Linked DNA regions of Homo sapiens: region 2 is linked to region 1. A link means that fine-mapping ties the variant in region 1 to the expression of a gene that starts in the linked region. Tissue or cell type: tibial artery. Region 1 holds a variant in brackets; the other region holds the start of a gene. All regions are shown on one strand. Distances are between the middles of the regions.

Region 1 (2,745 bases):
AGGGCATAACAAGATCCTCAAAACACGACCTTGGATTCAGGCGCACTGATAGCTGGAAATGTTCTTCATTTTCCAAGAGAAAAATATAGGACTCAGCAACAGAATTGGAGTGAAAATAAGAGGGTCAAATTTAATCCAGCAAATATTCTCAAAGGCTCCTGTCAGCCAGGCATTGTGCTAGGCACTGTGGGCCATGTACACATGAGAAAGACACCACCCCTACTGCCAAGAAATTCACGGCCTATGGGAGGCTACGAGCCTCCAGATGAATTTTCTATCACTCAAAATATAATTCACTAAGAGATCCACAGATAAAATGCTAAACAAGGTTAGATAAGGAAAGATCTCAAGAGGCAAAGTTCGGGAAAATCTCAGAATAAGTTGACTTTGAATTGAATCTTGAAGGATGGTTAGTATTAATAGTTTGTCAAGTGGAGGTGGTGAAGGGATAGAATCAGAAAATGGGAGAAAGAATAGTCAGTATAGCCAGGACATGATTATGAGCTTTGCTTTTATAAATGCCAAAGCTTTAATGAGAATTCAAAAATATCCAGGTTCCATTTCCAGTTTAACAGTTCACATCCCCAGTTCTAAAAACAGGGAATTTTATATGATGAAATTGAGTTTACACAAGGACACCAGACTTGGCTCTAAGATCCACCATGTCAACGTGGGCCATAAGAAAGACTGGAGGGAGTAGACTGGGAAGGGGTGGGTTTGGGGGCTTAAAATTAGAAGAGATTGGAAAGAAACACTGGAACGTTCCTATAAAGAGACCTAGGGCACCAAAACCTGATATTCTACAACACAGAACTCCGACATAATTTATATTTCCATGTTTCATGCCCTTTCCTCAATCAGTAGGGTCTTGAATATTGATTACAAACTCTTATGTCCAAATGCTAAAAAGGAGAAAAAGAGACATTATAGATTTAACGATAATTGTACATCTATAATCTACTCAATGTGGGTAACTTATGTTGTGTGTTTATTCCCTGGGAGACGTTGAAGTTCTTTGTCTGATATCCTAAATTTTCTTATAATAATTCATTCCATTTTGGTGAGCAGAGAAGGATACTTTTAAGATTTTTAGAATCATAAATCTAAATAGTAGTTTCTTGGTATGCAAGCAACCTCCAATGACTTGAAAAAGGAGTAAGTAGGCATAAAGGGAACACTTTGTCCTGTTGTGTTGTACATACTCCATGTTAAAAATATCTGATTGCATATTTTGCCTGATCA[G/A]TATGAAAACTACGCAAACTTTAGTGTTGGTTGGCAAAATACTTGTGCTTTGCTTACTTTTGCAAGTAATGGCATGCTTATCGTTGTTAAGAAGGCTTTCATATGATAAAGCTTTTAAAGCTGTGTAAATCAATAGATATTAGAATAATAATGAGAGTTTCAAAACTCACTAGAGCCAACACAAGCTGACCTAACCCATTACGGCCCAGAATAATGAACTAAAAAATCATTGCTGAGCTGCCCTCCAACAGAAAAAACAATTTGAAAAAAACAGGAAGTATTCATTTTCTATTAATGGACCCACTTTACTTGCAGATGCAGCTAGATAATGCATCAAAGCCAATTAGGGTTCCAGAAGGAGCGTCTTTACTAATAGAAGGGTCAAACTCTTATTGACAGAGTTGAACTTTAAGCAAGAAAATGTGTTCCTGGAAAGGCAAGTGGCATCTTGATTCTGCCACTTTGAATTTCTAGTTCTCATCTTTAGGGAGAAGGTTTTTCTTCTACGCCCAGTGTACTATAAAGACAGAGACATATGCAGCTACAAGGTTTAATCAGAAGCCAGGCAGGTGGATGGATAATGACTATTTCAATTTGTATCATTCCTTGAGTGCAGAATCATTTAAGTGGGAGAAGGGTCTAATTGCCTTTGAATAACTAGTTTCCAGTCAGCACTTTAAATAGCCCCTTTTTTTTCCAGAATCAAAATCCACACATGATTTAAATAGAGCCCACTTCAACCCAGCATTGCCCCAAATGATCATGTCGCATGAACTGCACAATTATTAATAGATTTCCACCTTCTCATTGAAGTTCTCATTTCTGATAACGGGACAGTATGTGGAAGTTTCCTGCATATCTAAGATGTAATTGCAATCACACTGTAGGGGTAAGGAGAGTCTTATGATGTTTCTCTCATAATCTCTCATGACCCCAACAGCAACCTTTACCCAGCTCTATCAATCATGATCTTTTCTCATCACTTGGATCAATAGTGAAGTTTTGGGAGTCCTTAACAATGAGATTTTCAATACATCCTCATGGATTGTCAAGAAATTACTTTATTTAAAAATCTCGTTTTCTGCTTAAGGGTATTTATGTATATAAATAATAACCTTATATATATAAATAAATAACTATATATATTATATAATATATAATATATATATTATATGTATATGGTTATTATATATATATAAAAACCATATATAAAAATAACCATATATAGATATACCTTCTAAGGTTAAAAACATAATTTTTTCAGAAAACTTACTGAATTGGAAGCAAGCCTATATCAGAGGGTTTATGGGAACTGTTGCTAAGGAAATACCTTAGCAATGTTCAAACTTTGATTTAAAGTTATCAGTGGTAAGTTAGGCATGCAGTCCCAGCTACTCCAGAGGCTGAGGCAGGAGAATTCCTTGAGCCCAGGAGTTCCAGGCTGCAGTGAGCTATGATCGTGCCACTGCACTCGCACTCCAGCCTGGGCAACAGAGCAAGATC
Region 2 (2,769 bases), 82 kb before region 1:
TCCCCAACACCTGTGAATCATCCGGGAGGCTGCCACCGCCGAGCGATCCGCGCACCACCCCCTTCCCGGGCCCGGGCACGGCCAGGGAGGACAGTTAGGGTTGTTGCTTTATAATTATCACTTTTAATCTCTAATACGACCAGCACAAGTAGCCTTTGTCTCCCCGCCCTGATTTGAGCATCCGAGGGCCCCCCGAGGCAGCCTGCACGGGTACCCCGGGGTTTGCGCACTGAGTGAACCCCCAGATTCGGCCGTGTCCCAGCCGTCCTTGCTCTGAATCCCCCACCTCCTCCCGGCCGTTTGGACGGTTCCCTCGGGGCGTCTGTGCCTCCGTGGGGTACCCCTAAGACACCCAGCATGAAACCCCAGCACCGACTGCAAATTCCACCGAAAGCAGAGTCATCCGTTTTTGCCCTCGGCAAACAACTCAACTTCAAGCCTCGAGTCCTTGCAAACCCACGCTGGCTGGGCTAACTCCGCTTCCCTTCTCCTTCCCCCGACTCCTGCAACAGCTCAGAGAGCCTGGCTCTGACGTAGTTCAAAATAACGTGCGCCAGCCTCGCTGCCCGGCTGACCACAGCAACGAGAGCCACAAGCCCTCGACGCTGCTTCGATAACATGAAGCAATCACTCATAAAAATAGCAACCCACGTAGCCTGGCCATATATGGAGCTGGCGAGGGTGGACGGGGATGCCCCTACGGACCCTCTTCGGAGAAAACAAATCGCCGCTGAAATTTCCCCCACCCCTCCCATCACTACCTTTTACCCCTCCTCTGCCTTCCCCTCTCCTTAGATGACTCAACCACAGATTCCACTGAAAGGGGGTGGGGGTGGGGGTGGGGGGGAATATATACACATACACACAAATTATACATATATTATACATGTATTATAAAATATACACACACATACATATATACATACACACACATATACACATATGTACACACACACGCACACACACCAAAGAACATCAGGAATGCAGTTGCGGGATGAACGCGTTTGCCCAAGACCGAGTGTTAAAATGGAGTCATAAGAGTCGCCCCGTGCGGGTGTTTATAGAAGGTGAAAACACGCAGGTTTGCAGGCCAGCGCACTGGGAACCGAGTCAAGCGCGCCGCAGCCCGGGCCCCGCCCCCGCCCCCGCCGTGCCCCGCCCCCACTTCCTCCCGCCCCTCGCTGGGCGGCTATTAAAAGCTGCTGACGTCAAAACGGACGGCCATCTTTGATGAGGGCAGAGCTCACGTTGCATTGAAGACGAAACCTCGGGGAGGTCAGGCGCTGTCTTTCCTTCCCTCCCTGCTCGGCGGCTCCACCACAGTTGCAACCTGCAGAGGCCCGGAGAACACAACCCTCCCGAGAAGCCCAGGTAAGAACCCCCCTCCCCAGGTCGTGGCTCTGGCTCGGGATGGCTGCATACCCAGAAGGGACAGCAGCTGGGCAGTCCGAGTGGGCTTGGGTAAATACAAGTATTGGTGCACTTAGGGTGCGGTATTCCGTGTGTGCACGTCTGGTGGGGGCTTTATAAAGTGTTTTCGAGGTGAGCTGCTGGGGAAAAGGGAAACGGGAGCCCTGCAAATGGAGCGACGGGGAGGAAGAGCGAGGGTACGTACCGAATAATAACTTACTCTTTTGAAACAGTAGTGGGACCCCCTCTTTCTTCCATTTTGCGATGCAGTTTTCAGAGATATTTAGGCTGTTGAGTTTTCCTCCCCTGTCGTTCTAACCCTATTATTATGACTGTTGTCGTTAGGGTGCTATTATCCAGGGAAGAATTAAGGGGGAGACAGGGTGTGGGTGCTGGGGAGGCGAAAGGAGAAAGGGGGAGTTCCCGCCCCGGGCAAGCTGAGCTGCTGCAGCGACAGCAGCCTCCATGCCCCGCGGACTTGATTTATGCCGCCTGCTCCACGTCAACTGCAGGCTGGCGGGAGGCGGGCGGGTCGTGCCGGGTGGGAGGGCTCTGCGGAGGGCTGGCGCGGGTGGGCTGGCTTCGGGGACTGCGGCGGCCCGCGCTCAGCACCCTGGATAGCAACACCGAGGGCTCGCGCGGGCGCCCTCGACCTTTCAGCACCGGGGACAGCGGTCCGGCCGCAGCGCCTCATCTGCCTGCGGCAGAAATGCCTGGCCGGGGCTGGATGTGCCAGGGCTGGAGACCAAATTGTCTCCCTGAGACCCCGGTCTTACGGAGACCCTTAATAGAGGAGTCATAGTAGCTTAAAAGAAAACAAGAAAGAAATAAATCTTCCTCACAGAGACTCCTTTGCAGACAATTTCCTGTTCCCCTCCTCACCTCCTGCATAGCTTCAACAAAATAGTCTACTTGTGGAAATCTTCTGTGTTGCCCTCTGACCCTTATTTTACGTAGAAAATAAATACATTTTTTAAAAAATATGGATTTATCCTCCAGCAGGGTATCAAGGTTTTTGTTTGGTTTTGTTTTTTAACACAGAGTAGATCTGTCTACAGATCTTGGGTGAGCATAAGTACTGTATATATGAAGAAGCCAATGCTATCTGTTTATAGGGATGATACATCTCTCTCTATGTTTCCATTTGATAAAAATGTGAGATTAGCTGAACTAAGCAGAATCAACTTTAAGAATGAATCACTCTTCCTTTTCCTTCTTCCCCCATCCTTGCAATCAGGCATGAATACAAGCATTCATCCACAAAAACACATATCTGAGAAATTTTACTGGTCCTGTACTGAATAGATTTAACCTCTTTGGCCACGGTTTCAGAGTTACTGGAAGTATTTGCTATCAGCA

Direction of the effects. Alleles are on the strand shown, and positions count from the first base shown. SD is a standard deviation of normalised expression in the study named.
In carriers of allele A in region 1, the expression in tibial artery of the gene that starts at base 1,224 in region 2 tends to be lower than with G alone (large effect, 0.81 SD a copy in GTEx).

The links. PIP is the estimated chance that this variant, and not a neighbour inherited with it, causes the effect.
Region 2: it holds the start of SNAP25, and the variant in region 1 is fine-mapped to the expression of SNAP25 in tibial artery (GTEx, PIP above 0.99). The same link has a PIP of 0.9 or more in aorta.

The regions. Positions count from the first base shown.
Region 1 is chr20:10,299,480-10,302,224 of GRCh38, forward strand. All of the region lies in intron 7 of SNAP25 (synaptosome associated protein 25), which reads left to right. Among named protein-coding and RNA genes, the nearest start is that of SNAP25-AS1, 81 kb to the left of the region's middle. RefSeq lists an enhancer at 1,017-1,934. The variant G/A (reference allele first, on the strand shown) is at 1,243.
Region 2 is chr20:10,217,607-10,220,375 of GRCh38, forward strand. It overlaps SNAP25 (synaptosome associated protein 25), which reads left to right and starts at 1,224. Exons shown (of 8, transcript NM_130811.4): 1 at 1,224-1,371. SNAP25-AS1 (SNAP25 antisense RNA 1) reads right to left here and starts at 1,900. Exons shown (of 5, transcript NR_040710.1): 1 at 1,631-1,900.